Homo sapiens: one gene and its partners. The protein of the gene in region 1 interacts with the protein of each later gene in a pairwise test. Each region holds a gene or a part of one and is shown on either strand. Other genes may lie near its edges.

Evidence for each region.
Region 2: the proteins of UNKL (region 1) and CPSF2 interact in a two-hybrid assay, tested with the Homo sapiens proteins (one large-scale study listed by BioGRID).
Region 3: the proteins of UNKL (region 1) and DDX50 interact in a two-hybrid assay, tested with the Homo sapiens proteins (one large-scale study listed by BioGRID).
Region 4: the proteins of UNKL (region 1) and QKI interact in a two-hybrid assay, tested with the Homo sapiens proteins (one large-scale study listed by BioGRID).
Region 5: the proteins of UNKL (region 1) and MGAT5B interact in a two-hybrid assay, tested with the Homo sapiens proteins (one large-scale study listed by BioGRID).

Annotation. Positions count from the first base shown.
Region 1 is NC_000016.10:1,369,677-1,373,209, reverse strand, and holds part of UNKL (putative E3 ubiquitin-protein ligase UNKL), read left to right. Parts: intron 1-1,598; coding exon 1,599-1,691; intron 1,692-2,852; coding exon 2,853-3,080; exon of another isoform or gene 3,081-3,203; coding exon of another isoform or gene 3,204-3,276; intron 3,277-3,533. UniProt on the Homo sapiens protein: May participate in a protein complex showing an E3 ligase activity regulated by RAC1. Ubiquitination is directed towards itself and possibly other substrates, such as SMARCD2/BAF60b. Intrinsic E3 ligase activity has not been proven.
Region 2 is NC_000014.9:92,169,807-92,172,645, forward strand, and holds the end of CPSF2 (cleavage and polyadenylation specificity factor subunit 2), read left to right. Parts: 3' UTR 1-2,339; downstream 2,340-2,839. UniProt on the Homo sapiens protein: Component of the cleavage and polyadenylation specificity factor (CPSF) complex that play a key role in pre-mRNA 3'-end formation, recognizing the AAUAAA signal sequence and interacting with poly(A) polymerase and other factors to bring about cleavage and poly(A) addition.
Region 3 is NC_000010.11:68,907,815-68,911,314, reverse strand, and holds part of DDX50 (ATP-dependent RNA helicase DDX50), read right to left. Parts: intron 3,405-3,500; exon of another isoform or gene 3,345-3,404; intron 1,009-3,344; coding exon 933-1,008; intron 248-932; coding exon 69-247; intron 1-68. UniProt on the Homo sapiens protein: ATP-dependent RNA helicase that may play a role in various aspects of RNA metabolism including pre-mRNA splicing or ribosomal RNA production.
Region 4 is NC_000006.12:163,533,187-163,536,719, forward strand, and holds part of QKI (KH domain-containing RNA-binding protein QKI), read left to right. Parts: intron 1-1,795; coding exon 1,796-1,939; intron 1,940-3,533. UniProt on the Homo sapiens protein: RNA reader protein, which recognizes and binds specific RNAs, thereby regulating RNA metabolic processes, such as pre-mRNA splicing, circular RNA (circRNA) formation, mRNA export, mRNA stability and/or translation.
Region 5 is NC_000017.11:76,937,893-76,941,425, forward strand, and holds part of MGAT5B (alpha-1,6-mannosylglycoprotein 6-beta-N-acetylglucosaminyltransferase B), read left to right. Parts: intron 1-95; coding exon 96-251; intron 252-2,509; coding exon 2,510-2,656; intron 2,657-2,839; coding exon 2,840-2,956; intron 2,957-3,533. UniProt on the Homo sapiens protein: Glycosyltransferase that acts on alpha-linked mannose of N-glycans and O-mannosyl glycans.

The DNA of each region.
Region 1 (3,533 bases):
TTCCATGCTGCTGAGGTCTCTGTGCGGTGTTGGCCGGCAGTCCCTGTGCGGTGTGTTCCATGCTGCTGAGGTCTCTGTGCGGTGTTGGCCGGCAGTCCCTGTGTGGTGTGTTCCATGCTGCTGAGGTCTCTGTGCGGTGTAGGCCGGCAGTCCCTGTGTGGTGTGCTCCACGCTGCTGAGGTCTCTGCGGTGTTGGCCGGCAGTCCCTGTGTGGTGTGCCCCACGCTGCTGAGGTCTCTGTGCGGTGTTGGCCGGCAGTCCCTGTGTGGTGTGCCCCACGCTGCTGAGGTCTCTGTGCGGTGTTGGCCGGCAGTCCCTGTGTGGTGTGCTCCACGCTGCTGAGGTCTCTGTGCAGTGTAGGCCGGCAGTCCCTGTGCGGTGTGCCCCACGCTGCTGAGGTCTCTGTGCGGTGTTGGCCACAACACTGGGCTGGGCTGGGGAGGCGGCGCCGGCCCACAGGGTGTATCCCAGAGCTCCTGCAGCCGCTGCGGTCCTCTGGTCTGCCCCAGGTGGCACGTGGGCTCTCAGATCCCAGATCCTCTGGTCACCCCTCACCCCCAACCCAACTTCTGTGCAGTGGCTGCGGGAGTTTGAGACACGCTGTGGCTTCAGGGGCTGGTGGCCTGAGCTCAGCCTCCTCATGATGGCTTCCTAATTCTAGGAAGGGGCAGTGGGGTCCCTGCTTGCCATTCGGGGTTGGGGGTGGGGACTTGGGAGGGAAGGGCCCGTGCAGGAGGGCAGCCCCACGGCCTGCAGGGATGTGTGGGGACAGCCTTGGAAGGCAGGGCTGGCTGGGTGAGGCCACTCTGAGGCGGGTCCTTCCCACTCAGTCTTGAGCCTTGGGAATTGAGGTCTTGGTGCTTGGCATGAAATTGCACGTGAACACCTGCTCCTTGAAATCACCCTCACAGAAAGTTTTTTTTTTGTTTTTGTTTTTGTTTTTTTTGAGATGGAATCTTGCTCTGTCGTCCAGGCTGGAGGGCAGTGGCACGATCTCGGCTCACTGCAAGCTCCGCCTCTGGGGTTCACACCATTCTTCCGCCTCAGCCTCCCGAGTAGCTGGGACTACAGGCACCCGCCACCACGCCTGGCTAATTTTTTGTATTTTTTTTTTTTTGGTTGAGACGGGGTTTCACCGTGTTAGCCAGGATGGTCTCGATCTCCTGACCTTGTGATCTGCCCACCTCGGCCTCCCAAAGTGCTGGGATTACAGGTGTGAGCCACCGCACCCGGCCCTGGAAAGTTTTTTAAACAGTCGAATGTGCACACGTGGACAGATGCTAACACACACTTAGGTATTTAAACTCTGAGGGGCAGCAGCAGCGTGTCAGAGGCGAGGACCCAGCTGCTGGTCTGTGGTGCGGGGCGTCCCACCTGAGCACGCTCGTTTTGCCGGAGGAACAGCCAAGCCTCACACTGCCTGTGGGGGGCTGCGAGGACGGGCTGGGGGTGTCCTTCCCTGGCTGCCCCAGCAACTCCCACGCCTTCTGCCCTTGGTCTCACTCTAAGCCCAGGTGGGACGGTCGTCCTCCTCAGCTAGGCTTCCTGAGCTCTGCAGCGCTGGGTGGGCTGTGGATGATGGGGGGCTCTGTTGACAGGTTCTGCGTTAGACCTGCATCTTAGCAATGTGAATATTGCATCCCTAGAGAAGGACCTGGAAGAGCAAGACGGCCACGACCTGGGAGCAGCAGGTGAGGGTGGGGAGGACCTGGGGCCCTGCTCCTCCAGCCGCTGAACAGCCAAGTGCTGTGGCCGGAGGATCGCTTGAGCCCGGGGAGGTCAAGGCTGCAGTGAGCTGAGGTTGCACCACTGCACTCCTGCCTGGACCACAGGGCAAGACCCGGTGTCTGGTTTTCGGAGCGGGAGGATCCCCTTCTGGCGGTACCTCCTCCTCCTCTCCCTGACTGCCTCTCCCTTTCCCTCCCCTGCACATGGACTCCTCAGCATCTCTCCTGCCTCGGGCCTGCCCACTTCTTCAGTTGACCTTTGTCCCAGCAAAGTGGCCGCGCAGAGACAGGCGGGGCCTTTCCTGAAAGTCTTGATGGTCCCCGAAGGATAAATGTATTCACATTGTAGACAAAAGATTGACATCCATACAAATGTATCTTTTTTTTTTTTTTTTTTTTTGAGACAGAGCCTCGCTCTGTCGCCCAGGCTGGAGTGCAGTGGCGCGATCTCCGCTCACTGCAAGCTCCACCTCCCGGGTTCACGCCATTCTCCTGCCTCAGCCTCCGGAGTAGCTGGGACTACAGGTGCCCGCCACCACGCCCAGCTAATTTTTTGTATTTTTAATAGAGACGGGGTTTCACCATGTTAGCCAGGATGGTCTCCATCTCCTGACCCCGTGATCTGCCCGCCTTGGCCTCCCAAAGTGCTGGGATTACAGGCGTGAGCCAGTGCGCCCGGCCCCATACAAATGTATCTTAACATCGTATACAACATCTTTTCATTCAGCCTAAAAGTGTATCTTTTCTTTCTTTTAAAAGAAAGTAAACCATTTCAGGGGGCCTGGACAAGTGCTGGGAGGACCGTGCCAATGGCTTAGTTGGCCGGCAGGGCCTGGTGGGTGTCCGGCCTCTTTGGGGGGGGCCCATGTTAAACCCCCGTCTCCCCACCTCTGGTTGGAATCCCTTTGAGCCCATGGCTTGCCCAGCTGTGTTGGACATGGCCACCGGGGGCGCTGTGGCTCCAAACACATAGATGGTGGTGGCTGGCCTGGCCCCTATATTCCCACCCCCCATATCCCCACCACCACCACCTGCAGGGTCCGTCTTCCACGGCTGCCGCCCATGGCAGATGTTTGGGCAGAGGCCTGGCGGTACTCCCTTCGCTGACTGGTCCGCCCCCGCCAGGTCCCAGGTCGCTGGCCGGCTCTGCACCTGTCGCCATCCCCGGCTCCCTGCCCAGAGCACCATCGCTACACTCGCCATCCTCTGCGTCCACCTCGCCGCTCGGTTCGCTGTCCCAGCCCCTCCCAGGGCCGGTGGGCTCCTCAGCCATGACGCCTCCCCAGCAGCCGCCACCCCTGCGTTCAGAGCCGGGCACACTGGGCTCTGCAGCCTCATCCTACAGCCCCCTAGGTGAGTGCCGGCTCCCTCCATGCTGGCGTTGCCGTGAAGCCTCCGTGGGGCTCCCTCCCAGATGCCGTCCTGACTGAGGGGCCTCACACGGAACCTTGTGCCCTATCTGTGGTGGCAAACCACATGACCTGCTGCTCACAGGTTCCCCCACGCCGCAGACCGAGTCTCGCTCTGTCGCCCAGGTTGGACTGCAATGGTACGATCTCGGCTCGCCGCAACCTCCGCCTCCCAGGTTCAAGCAATTCTCCTGCCTCAGCCACCCAAGTAGCTGGGACTACAGGCGGGCGCCACCACGCCCAGCTAGTTTTTGTATTTTTAGTAGAGATGGCGTTTCATCACGCTGGCCGGGCCGGTCTCAAACTCCTGACCTCGTGATCTGCCTGCCTTGGCTTCCCAAAGTGTGGGATGACAGTGAGCCACCGTGCCCGGCTATTTGTTACGTTGTAAAAGAAC
Region 2 (2,839 bases), on another chromosome or scaffold:
ATGAAACCGTTAAGTAGAGATTTTTCTAATAGTATAAAAATCAGTGTAGGCCCAGCACAGTGGTTCACACCTGTAATCCCAGCACCTTGGGAGGCTAAAGGCAGGAGGATTGCTTGAGCTCAGGAGTTTGAGACCAACCTGGGCAACATAGTGAGAACTCATCTCTATTAAAAATCAGAAAAATTGGCCAGGTGTGGTGGCTCATGCCTGTAGTCCCAGTTACTCAGGAGGCTGAGGCAGGAGGATCCCTTGAGATTGAGGCTTCAGTGAGCTAATGATCGCGCCACTGCACTCCAGCCTGGGTGACAGAGTGAGACCCTGTCTCAAAAACAACAAAAATCTCAGTGTGACAAATTCCTAACAGCTCAAATACTACTTGTCTTATTTGTTAACTATTTTGAAATAATTTTAAACTTACAGAAAAGTAGAATAGTTCAAAAGATCCTGTATATCCTTCCCCTAGATTCTTCTATTGTTAACATCTTGCCATATTTTCCATACCACTCTCTAGCTATGTATTCACATTATTTTTTGAACTGTTTGTTACTAAGTTGCAATTGTGATGTCCCATTAGTACTAAATACTTAAGTGTATACTTTTTAAAAACAAGGACACTCCTACATAACCACAGTACTTAAAATCAGGAAACCAGCATTGATAAAATTCTACCATTTGATCCACGAACCCCATTCAAATGTTGCCATTTACTCCAAAAATATCCTTACAATAACCCTTTCCTTTTTTGGTCCACAGTCCAATCAGGATGAAGCACGCATTTAGTTACATTTTCCCTTTAGTCTTCCTCAATCTGGAGCGGTTCCTTGGTTTTTCCTTTTTTGTGACCTTGACATTTTTGAAGAATGCAGGCCAGGTACTTTGTAGAATGATGTGCACTTTGGGTTTGTCTGATATTTCCTCAAGATTAGATTCAGGTTGTGAATTTTTGGCAGGAATACCAGAGAGGTGATGCTGTCTTCTTCTCTGCATTGTATCAGGAGGCACATCATGTCAATTTTTTCCATTACTGGTGATGTTAATTTTTAACAGTTGGTTACGATGTTTTCAAGATTTCTCCACTGTTAGTATTTTCTCCACTTGTATTTGTTTTTTGGTATAAACTTAAAAAGTACAGCATGATGTTTTGGTATATGTATCCATAGTGAAATGATTATTACAGGTATTAATTAATGAGGAATTACGTATTTTGTGGGTAGCTATTTTGAGACTCTCAATATCCTATTTCTCAAAATTTTACCCTTTACTTTTAGCATCCATTGATGATCCTTGTCTGGATCAGTTATTGCCAAATGGTAGTTTTCTTTTCTTTTCTTTTCTTTTGAGACAGTGTCTTGCTCTGTTGCCCAGGCTACAGTGCAGTGATGAGATCATAGCCCACTGCAGCCTCAAACTCCTGGGCTCATGCCATTTTCCCCTCAGCTTTTGGAGTTAGCTGGGACTACAGGCATGCATCACCACACCCAGATTATTTTTAAAGTTTTTGTAGAAACGGGGTCTCTTCTTCCCCATTTATTCAATATTTATATCAGTATAGAACATGGGTCCCTGTTTTATCATCTGTAAGTTATGATTTATTTTGATGCCCCCATTGTCCAAGATTTGACTAGCGAGAGCACTTTCCAGCTAGCTCCTGTGTCCTTTGGACATACCCCATGGTTCATTGAGCACTTCCTTGCTTTCTGGCACCACAAGATGTTCCAGGCTCGTCTTCTATTTTCCCTACCCCGCTCCTGACATCAGCCATTTCTCCAAAGAGTCCTGGTTCATATTAGTGGAGAATGGTATTTAAAACCAAGATCCGGATGCTAAAGGCTGTGCTCATTGCCCCTGTGCTAGCATTGCCACTGTGCGTTCTCCCAGTGGACAAATTTGGAAATATATGCGTCTATGCTTGTTACCTCATCCATCCATATATATATTAAAAACAAGTACACACTGATACCTATTTCACATCTACTCCACAGAGTTTATTCTAGTCTTCTCCCTTTCCACAATTGTATCTTCTCCACCCTATATTTAAAAACTGGACTTCCAGAGTCTCCAATACATTGGCTTATTTGTTCATTTTCCCTGTGATTAACCAACCTCCTGACCACGTGGCTGGCTCCTTTGCTCCATCTCTGCCCCTCACCCCCTACCGTACATCACTGCTGTGAGGACCAAGTTTCCTCCCTTTCCTCGATCCATGACAGCACCTGCCAGTTGAACCCCACAGTGGGAATTTTAAAGAAGGCACTTTTGGCTCAGATGGCAGTGCCAAAGCAGGCATTCCAATTCACATGGTGCTCTAGCAATTGTGAAATAAACAGATTCTGAAGGTCTGTCCTGGACTGTGTATAGTCTTTGGGTTTTTGTCTTGCTTATTTTGTTAAAATGTTTTCCTGATGACTTTCTATTCTATAGTAAAGCCTTATACATAATGTTCAAGCAGGCGTCAGACAAAATAATGATCATTGTGGAGAGGAGTTAGGAAGGAAAAGATGAAAAGGAAGAAGGCGTAAACCCAATATTGAGAGGAGAAATGGGTACGGCAGGAGTAGCCGTCTGAATCCGAAATGCTGTCTGAGCCAGGACACATTCACAGTTAGAGATCTTAAGTAATGTGTTAATATTATTTTATAACTGTCCTTGCAAAAACAAAACAAAACTGCCTGTCAGTTCATTTGGATCATCCACCCACTTAAGTTTTAGGAGTGTCAGGACCAAGTTAGCTGTATTGAGTGCTGAGGTGTTCTTTTATTAAACAGTCAGCTATTCAATCTTAATAATTTGTAGTGGGAGGAATAATATGCCCCTGGACAAATAATTCCTTGGAAAGCTC
Region 3 (3,500 bases), on another chromosome or scaffold:
ACTCGTGTAACTTTCTTTCCCTTTCTGTTAGAGTAACATTTAAAGCTTTTACCCCCTATAACGATTACCTTTGGTGAGCGGCTTTTTTTAATTGTTTCTTGATTTCTTTGGAGTCTTTCAATTAAGGGGATGGCAAAAGAGAATGTCTTTCCTGTTCCTGTCCGTGCTTGAGCTATTAAATCTTTTCCTTCATATACAGGACCAAAGGTCTTAACTTGAATAGGAAAGAGATATGTTACCCCTCGACCTGTAAAATGAGATTTAATTAAAATACTTCTTTACGACTAGCATTAGGAAAAAATATATTCATTTGAAAATGACAATCATAATTCTTCTATGTCTGCCTAAAGACATGCCACCTGGTGACACAGTTATTCCTACCACAAACAAGCATTACTAAAAAATTAGTCTAAACTTTTGACGAATGCATATAAATCTTAAAGCTAAAAACAAGGCAGAATATTGAAAAGGATGATGTAAAAGTAAGTGCAATTAAAGAAGAGCTACTTCTCTATGCTTTTTATGTTCTCCTTTTGGTCAGAAAAGGCACAGGAGTTTTACAAAATCTAGTGATAGATTTTTAATTGCATATCCATTAAAACTGCAAACCTTTGGGCCAGCCGTGGTGGCTCACGCCTGTAATCCCAGCACTTTGGTAACCCAACTGGAACAGATCAGGAGGTCAGGAGTTTGAGACCAGCCTGACCAACACAGTGAAACTGCGTCTCTACTAAAAATATGAAACTTAGCCGGGCATGGTGGCACACGCCTATAATCCCAACTACTCAGCAGGCTGAGGTAGGAGAATCGCTTGAACCCAGGAGGCGGAGGTTGCAGTGAGCCAAGACTGCCCCACTGCACTCCAGCCTGGGCAACAGAGCGAGGCTCTGTCTCAAAACAACAACAATAACAACAACAACCAAACTGCATACCTTTCAGAAGCTTTATAGTCTCTTCAGAAATAGGAAAATTGGAGAAGGCTCCTTCTTTCTGTTCACGTGTTAAGGTCTGTAAAAATGAAATCAATGGCCTAAATAATTTATACTCAACTCTTCCTCATTTACTGTTTTTAATTTTTTACAGATTAACTTACAAGGAAAATTAGTGGAACACTTTTTTTTTTTTTTTGAAACAGGGTCCCACTCTGTTGCCCAGGTTGGAGTGCAGTGGCACCATCACAGCTCACTGTGGCCTCAACCTCCGGGCTCAAATCCTACCAACCTCAGCCTCCCAAGCAGCTAGGACCACAGGCGCATGCCACCATGCTCACTTAGTTTTTTATTTTTTGTAGAGACAGGGTCTCACCATGTTATCCAGGCAGATCTTAAACTCCTGGCCTCAAGAGATCCTCCTGGCCAGGTGCGGTGGCTCATGCCCGTAATCCCAGCACTTTGGGAGGCCAAGGCAGGTGGATCATGTGAGGTCAGGAGTTCAAGACCAGCCTGACCAACATGGAGAAACCCTGTCTCTACTAACAATACAAAATTAGCCAGGCATGGTGGCGCATGCCTGTAATCCCAGCTACTCGGGAGGCTGAGGCAGGATAATTGCTTGAACCCAGGAGGCAGAGGTTGTAGTGAGCCGAGATTGCACCATGGCACTCCAGCCGGGGCAACAAGAGCGAAACTCTGTCTCAAAAGAAGAACAAGAAAAAAAAAAAGATCCTCCTACCTTGGCCTCCAAACTGCTGGGATTACAAGCATAAGCCATTATGCCCAGCCAAAAAGGTTATTTATTCATCTAAATCATACAGATGTAGACAAAATTATAAAGATTAACACAAGCCTATAAACTAAGCTAAAAGAAAGTATATAATGAGGAATGTAAAGTTTTTCTGAAAATAAGTTAAAAATTTATTCTACAGCGTTTGAAAGCTTATTTAGGTTGCTAATACAAGAGAAAGTTACCGTAAGCTTGAAGATTTCTTTAACATATATACAAGTTACCATGAGATTATCATTTAACATTTATTGAAAACTTTGTATACTAATGTGCACATAGAACAAAAACAGTGTGTCTACCCAGTAAGCTTTATTGTTCATGTGTTTAAAGAAACACACACTAACAATTTTCAAACTTGGAATTAGATAAAAAATAATTTCAAATTCAAATGGCATGCCATTTAAACAAACTTCAATGCTGCTGTTACCTTTTTATGATAAAAAAAATTATAAAAATAATACACTGTCGGCCAGGCGTGGTGGCTCATGCCTGTAATTCCAGCATTTTGGGAGGCCAAGGTGGTAGGATCACTTAAGCCCAGGAGTTCAAGACTAGCCTGAGCAATACAGTGAGACCTTGTCTCTATAAAAAACAAACAAACAAACAAAAATAAACAATACACTGTCATTGTAGAAACTTTTGAAACTGGCAGAGCCCAGTGGTTTATGTCTGTAATCCCAGCACTTTGGGAGGCCAAGGTGGGTGGATTACTTGAGCCCAGGAGTTCAAGACCAGTCTGGGCAACATAGTGAATGAAACACCATTTCTCCCAAAAATACACAAATTAGCCAGGCATGGTGCTACACGCCTATAGTCCCAGCTACTCAGGAGGCTGAGGTGGGAGGATCACCTGAGCCCAGGGAGGATGAGGCTGCAGTGAGCCATGATCACACCACTGCACTCCATCCTAGGTGACAGAGTGAGACCCCATCTCAAAAAAAAAAAAAAAAAAAAAGGAAATTTTAAAAACTACAGAGGAAACAGAAACAAATTTAAAAATTATTTATAATCCACTCAGCTAAAGCCATATTTGAAACATACTCCTCCAGTCTTCACTCTATGCACATAAAATTTTTTAAATAGAAATAAAATCACACTGTATATACCATTTTATAATCTTTTTTTTTTTTTTTTTTTTTTTGAGATGGAGTTTCGCTCTTGTTGACCAGGCTGGAGTGCAATGGTGCAATCTCGGCTCACTGCAACCTCCACTTCCCAGGTTCAAGCGATTCTCCTGCCTCAGCCTCCCAAGTAGCTGGGATTACAGGCATGCGCCACCACACCCAACTAATTTTTTTGTATTTAGTAGAGACAGGTTTCACCATGTCGGTCAGGCTGGTCTTGGAACTCCTGATCTCAGGTGATCCACCTGCCTCAGCCTCCCAAAGTGCTGGGATTACAGGCGTGAGCCACTGCGCCCAGCCTATTTTTTTCTTTTAACAAGATACAATGACTACCTTTTCTATTGTACACCCTTTGGGATAGCTGTATTCTATTATACAGCTATAGTATGTTTTATTTAAACCAAATGTCTACTATCAGACATTTAGGATGTTTAAATATTTTCCTATTATCAACAATATTACTATGATAAGAGTACTTATTCATACAGCTCTGCACACCTCTTCATCATCTCCTTAGGATAAATTCCTTTAAGTAGAATTCCTGAACTCTCATGTGATCTAAACAAAATAATAAACTGTTAAACCTATTATAATACAGATTTTACCAGGCAAAATCCCACCAAAGTGAGAAGCAAGCCATACATTCCACTGCTA
Region 4 (3,533 bases), on another chromosome or scaffold:
TTAGCATTCTTGAACATAACAATTGAAATCTGGATAACAAAACTAATTTTTCTTGCCACAGTTAGAGATATTAATACATATTTTATTTCTTGCCATACAGATAACCCTGAGGTTTCCAGTTTCTTGATTCATTGACTCCTTGGTTTCCCACTTAGTTTGCATGGTGTACCCTAGTCAAAAAGAAATATTTCAGAGTTCTGTTTATTAAATATTTACTCTACAAACAACTTTGAAACAGACTATACATTTTATTTGTAAATAACCACATTTTTACTAATAGCATTTGTATTTTCTTGGGTGCTGTTCAAATTCTCAAACTTTGGAATCAGATTTTTGTACTGCCACCCTCTTTTCTTGTTCCACATTGATTTTTGTATGTTCTTGATTTTTATTACAGCAACCGCTAACAACCTAGCTTTGTAAAGATATGACATCATCAAAAAGAATGTAATGTGACCTTATGTTGAAACAGTCAGATATTCTGAGCTGGTGGTTCACACAGTGTCGGACAGATGGTACCCCTGTAAAATGCTGTGCTGACTCAGAGTTCACTCTTTGGAAATACATAGATGGCCCAGCATAGGATTGTGTCTGATTTTTTTTTTCCCTGTATCCCCTTACAATATGTGGATGCATTTTCATCCTAAAGATGTGTTGATTAAAAATAAAGCAGAAGCATTTACTGTTAAAATTTATTTTTAGCCTTATTGGCTAAGCTCAATCATGTGAATTGTTGCAGAAAGCAGTTTTATTATGCCTGCTTTATTTTCTTTTACTGGAATCTAACAATTAGGTAAATAGTAACTTCTAAAATAAAGGTCCAAAAACAGCAGATATTTATTGTTTGTCTGTGGTACCTTGCTGTGTGCCAGGTGCATTTATATTTACCATTTATATACTACTTATATATTCTTATTTTATTTAAAAACACTTTCTCTAAAACTTAAAACAGCGATTCTGAAATTATGCCAACTCTACTTAACCTCCCTGTAGCTTAACCAGGTTTTCAACATGGGGATATTTCTTACTAGAAGACATTAAGGAAATGAAATATAGATATTCTCTATGAAACTAGTATTTATGACTTGATATAATTAAAGAGTAGCCTTACAGTTAATTTTAAGGTATGGTCTGATGGGAATGTAGATAAAACTATTTTCATAATTACCGCATGAAATACTTAAAACAAGTGGTAGTCATCTTACACAATAACATCTATATGCAAAATACCTTTTCTAATGCTGAATACAACCAATGTCATTAAAAGCAGTTGTAATGAAGTGGAAAGATCACTGAATTAGAGAATGAAAACTTTGATTCAGTTCCTAAATTGACAGCCTGTTAGCTGTGTGACATTGAGAGGTGACCCCCTTAACCTTGATGACCTTCTGTTTACTTATAAGTAAAATGCAGAAATAATGACATGTTTCTCAAAGTGTTTTTCATGGTAATGTAAGGACAGTATCAGATGTATGTTGTATGATACTACATACATGATGATGATGTATGCTTCTAGTGCATAGGAGCACGCTTGGGGCTGATCTTTAGCATCTGGTTCTGTGCCTGGTAGATAGTAAGTGCTCAGTAAATACTTGTTGGATTAATTATCATTTGACCCAGTAGTCTCACATTCAATCAAACTTTGAGGACCCAGAAAAATAATTCAAAGACTTGTGCCATCATAGCAAAATAATGCAAACATAGCTGAAATAATTGACAACAGGTTAGTATTATGAAAGATGTGCTCTCTCTTTAAAGAGAATAATTTTAATCATGTACTCTGTAAATTTTTTAGGAGGAGCAAAATAGAGGCAAGCCCAATTGGGAGCATCTAAATGAAGATTTACATGTACTAATCACTGTGGAAGATGCTCAGAACAGAGCAGAAATCAAATTGAAGAGAGCAGTTGAAGAAGTGAAGAAATTATTGGTACCTGCAGTAAGTAATAATTTCCAGACCTTAGATTTGGGCCTCGTCCTTTTTTGTCAGTTTATTTTAAATTATCGTAATGTTTATAAGGAATAGGTTATTGGTTGTTAGAAATTTTATTTAAGCATAAAATTAAAAACACCTGACTGATACTTCTAACATAATAAAAACATAAAGTTCGTATTTAGGGGTCCTTAGATAGACATTAAAAGGGGTTTTGGAGGGTGACGTCGCGTAAGAAATTATCCAGATGCTTTTGTGTTATCAGTTCTCCTTCCTTCCCGGTTTCTCTTTCCCCATCTCTTCCCCCATCTCTTCCCTCTGCCCCCCTTCCTTGGGTTGGCTCCTTATTGTTTCTTAACCCTTTAATATTTTTAGAAATAATAATTGTACTACTCCCAGAGTATAATTTTTTTTTTTTTAACGGGAAATGAAAAATAAATTACTGGTTTTCTGGGCCATTAATTTTTTTTTCTTATATTAGTAAAACTATATGGAAATGTGGACCCTAATTTGCTATTGGAAAAACTAGGGCTGGGTGCGGTGGCTCATGCCTGTAATCCCAGCACTTTGGGAGGCTGAGGCGGTTGGATCACCTGAGGTCAGGAGTTTGAGCCCAGCCTGGCCAACATGGTGAAACCCCATCTCTACTAAAAATACAAAAAATAAGTCGGGCGTGATGGCAGGCACCTGTAATCCCAGCTACTTGGGAGGCTGAGGCATGAGAATCGCCTGAGCCTGGGAGGCAGAGGTTGCAGTGAGCTGAGATTGCGCCACTATACTCCAGCCTGGGTGACAGAGTGAGACCCTGTCTCAAAAAAGAAAAGAAAAAACTAGGAATACTGTTAGTATTGTGTCCAACAAAAAGCATTGGCATTTACATAAATGAGTTATGGTTCCTGCTGCTTTTTATTTCCCAGATAGCCTATTCTTTATTACCCTGATAGTTTATTCAACAAGTAAACTCACAAATCATAAACATTTCCCATTAACTTGATGAAATTAATTCCTTGGAATAAAAGAGTTTTATGTAAATTCTGTTGGTAGATTTTATTTTTTTTAATGATCAGGTTAAATATAAACTAAAATCTATATTTGTGTACTATTAAACCATGGAATCTTTCTCATTTTCCTTAATTGTGTGGTATTGAAAAACTGTATAGAAAAGGAGATTTTCGAAAGTATACTGGGCAATTAGTGTCATGATCAGAAAAAGTTATTTAACATCGACTTTTACTGCTTTAATAACATTTTCTTTTCTGTAGCTTACTTTATTGTAAGAATACGGTATATAACATATAAAACATACAAAATATATGTTGATCAACTGTCAGGCTTCCAGACGACAGTGGGCTATTCGTCACATTTTGGGAGAGTTGAAAGTTACACAAGGATCTTTGATGCAGTCTGTGTCCCTGACAACCGAGCCCTCCCTTGTTGTTTGAGGATCAACTGGATATTGTTAGCGTCTTTTAAATTTTCTATTTACCCAGTCACCTGTAATCTCTTGTCTTGCTTACCATTTTTATTTCTAGTGTTTAGCATAGAGCCCAGCACATAGCAATAACATAGTAAATTGAAAAATAAATGATTGAATCTTGTC
Region 5 (3,533 bases), on another chromosome or scaffold:
ACATCTTCTGACTTCCAGACCAAAGGGATCTCCTCCATGGACTTTGCCTTCTGTGGTTTGCATGTGGTTCCCATCTCCTCCTCTTCTTTTTCCAGGGGAAGGAGAAGTTCCTGGGCATCCTGAACAAATACATGGAGATCCATGGCACCGTGTACTACGAGAGCCAGCGGCCCCCCGAGGTGCCAGCCTTTGTGAAGAACCACGGCCTCTTACCGCAGCCTGAGTTTCAGCAGCTGCTGCGCAAGGCCAAAGTGAGCTCCCATCCCCCGCACCATTCTCACACTTGCCGGCTGCAGACACTGAGGTCACCACCCATGCCTGCCACCACCACTCAGGCCCCTTCCACATATGGACATACCCCAGCATGCTCTGCTGCCCTGAGCCCCACATCTGGCCAGAGCCCAGGGGCAGAGATGTGGGTGCCCACCAGGCAGGAGAGGTCCTATAGAGAAAGGGACCTGGGCAGGGCCAGCAGAGCAGCAGAGCCGTGGCTCAGTGATGGGGAAGTAGAGTTGGACTGCCCATCCTCCCCCTTGCAGTACCAGTCCAGCCAAATGGACTCCTGGGTCAGGCCTAGCTTTTGGAGACACTGAGCTGGGGGGTGGTTGGGTGGGTGGAGAGAAGGGTCCTGGCTAGAGTGCCATTGAGCCACTAGTCCTGAGTGACTGCTTCAGGGGTCCCTGAGCTGTACTGCTGGAGCAGCAGTTGACACAGTGGGCAAAACCCTGACTGGACCCTGGAGTATCAGCTGAGGCTGGAGAGTCTCCAGCCAGCTTCTAGGCACCCCCTCACCCTCTTTTTTATGAGACAGGGTCTTGCTCTGTCACCCACGCTGGAGTGCAGTGGTGCAATCAGGGCCCACTGCAACCTTATATTCCTAGGCTCACACAGTCCCCTCACCTCCACCTCCCGAGTAGCTGGGACTATTGGCATACACCACCACACCTGGCTAATTTTTAAATTTTTTGTAGAGATGGTGTCTTCCTACATTGCCCAGGCTGGTGTCAATCTCCTGGGCTTAAGCGATCCTACCACCTCGGCCTCTCAAAGTGCTGGGATTACAGATGTGAGCCACTGCACCTGGCCCCAGGCCCTCTCTTGATCTCACCATAGCTTGTTTCCCAAGGCATCTTGGGGGTGTGTGTGTGTGTGTGTGTGTGTGTGTGTGTGTGTGTGTGTGTGTTGGGGGCAGTGGAGATGCTTGCATGCAGTGAATAACCTGAACAACCTCACAGAACAGCCCTGGATTCAGAATCATTTATTAAGTGCCTTTGAGGCCAGCCCTGTGCACTCCTAGCACAAGTTACTTAAAAAATAATAATTTTGGCCAGGTGCGGTGGCTCACACCTGTAATCCCAACACTTTGGGAGGCCGAGGTGGGCGGATCACGAGGTTAGGATATCGAGACCATCCTGGCCAACATGGTGAAACCCTGTCTCTACTAAAATACAAACAAACAAACAAACAAAAAATCAGCTGGGTGTGGTGGCGGGCGCCTGTAGTCCTGGCTACTCAGGAGGGTGAGACAGGGGAATTGCTTGAACCCGGGAGGCAGAGGTTGCAGTGAGATGAGATGGTGCCACCGCACTCCAGCCTGGTGACAGAGCAAGACTCCGTCTCAAAATTTTTTTTCAACTTTTATTTTAGGTTTAAGGGGTACATATGCAGGCTTGGTACCTGGGTATATTGCATAATGCTGAGGTTTGTGATATGAAGGATCTTGTCACCCAGGTAGTGAGGATAGTACCCAGTAGTTAATTCTTCCGTCTTTACCCCCTTCCTCCTCCCCACTCTGGGAGTCCCCAGGTGTCTGTTGTTGCCATCTTTATGCCCATAAGTACCCAATGTTCAGCTCCCACTTATAAGTGAGAATATGCGGTATTTGGTTTCTGTTCCAGCTTTAATTCACTTAGGATATTGGCCTCCTGCTGTATCCATATTGCTGAAAAGGACATGATTTTGTTTTTTTTTATGTCTGCGTAGTATCTTATGGTGTCTATGTACCATACTTTCTTTATCCAAGCCACCGTTAATGGGCACCTCCGTTGGTTCCATGTCTTTGCTGTTGTAAATAGCCTCACACAAGTTAGATGCTGAATAAATGTTTTTGGGATGAGTGAGTGAGGTTCCTGGAGGTCTCTTGCAGGTGCGGGCCTGCAGCTTTCTTGGCCTGAAACCCTTGTTCTTTTCTTCCTCCCTCCACAATCATAAATCATAGCCTGATAGAGCAAGAAGAGACCATTGATAATACCTAATTAGACCCCCTTATTTCACAAATGGGGAAACTGAGGCCCAGAGAGGGGAAGTGCTTGCCCGTGGCACAAGATGTTCTGGGCTGGCTTTTCCAGCCCTGTTATAGCTCACATAACAGGCTGAGCAAAAATAATCGCTCCAGGCCCAGCTGCCTCCTGTGAATATCCCGAAGCCTCACCTTGTCCCCGGCATCCTGGTGCTTACTGGGCTGTGGCGGCCCAGCCCTCCCTGATCACTGCGCCCCTTGACTCTGCAGCTCTTCATCGGGTTTGGCTTCCCCTACGAGGGCCCCGCCCCCCTGGAGGCCATCGCCAATGGTTGCATCTTCCTGCAGTCCCGCTTCAGCCCGCCCCACAGCTCCCTCAACCACGAGTTCTTCCGAGGCAAGCCCACCTCCAGAGAGGTGAGTGGAAAGCATCCTGGTCCCCGATCAGGAGGGGCCGGGACAGAGACCCCTGCAGGTCCTGGAAGAGGCAGACTGAGATGTGGGGCAAAAGGAGATAGGACAAGTGTATGGGGTACCTTTCTTTGTCCCTGTCCCACTGGCAGGCACGGGGGGCATCTGCAATCTCTGTACCCTTGCCAGGTGTTCTCCCAGCATCCCTACGCGGAGAACTTCATCGGCAAGCCCCACGTGTGGACAGTCGACTACAACAACTCAGAGGAGTTTGAAGCAGCCATCAAGGCCATTATGAGAACTCAGGTGAGAGCAGCCACATACAGTTGAGACCCCCCACTAGTCCACACTGCTGGTCTTCACTCTGATTAGAAAACGGTGCCCCCCTCTGGGTGAGTTCAGACTTGCAGGCCTGGGTTGGCAAAGGTGTCCATCCCTCCCCTGGTCAGACACAGCCCTGAGCCAGGGCATGTGGATTGGAGAATGGAATGGGGGATCCCATTCATCTACTCAGGTGTGATGTGTGGGGAATGCCTTTGTGCAGTGAGCAACCTGCACAACCTTACATGGCAGCCCTGGATCTCAAATTGTTTATGGAGCACTTTTGAGGGCCAGGTGCTAACTGAATGTTTTCACGATGGATGTGTGGAGGTTCTTGAAACTGCTGCAGGTGTGGCTTTGCAGCCTTTACACAGCACATTTCAAAATATAATGTGCATACAGAGCGTCTGTTAATGCGGGGCAACGCTTCGAGTAGCAAGGGGGCAGAACACCCTGGGTCTCCAGCGAACGTGGGTGCTGGTGTGTGTAGGTGCACATGTGTGGGCTGGGTGAGAGTGAGGAGGGGCTTGTGCCTGATGCTCATCTCCGCAGTGGACATGTT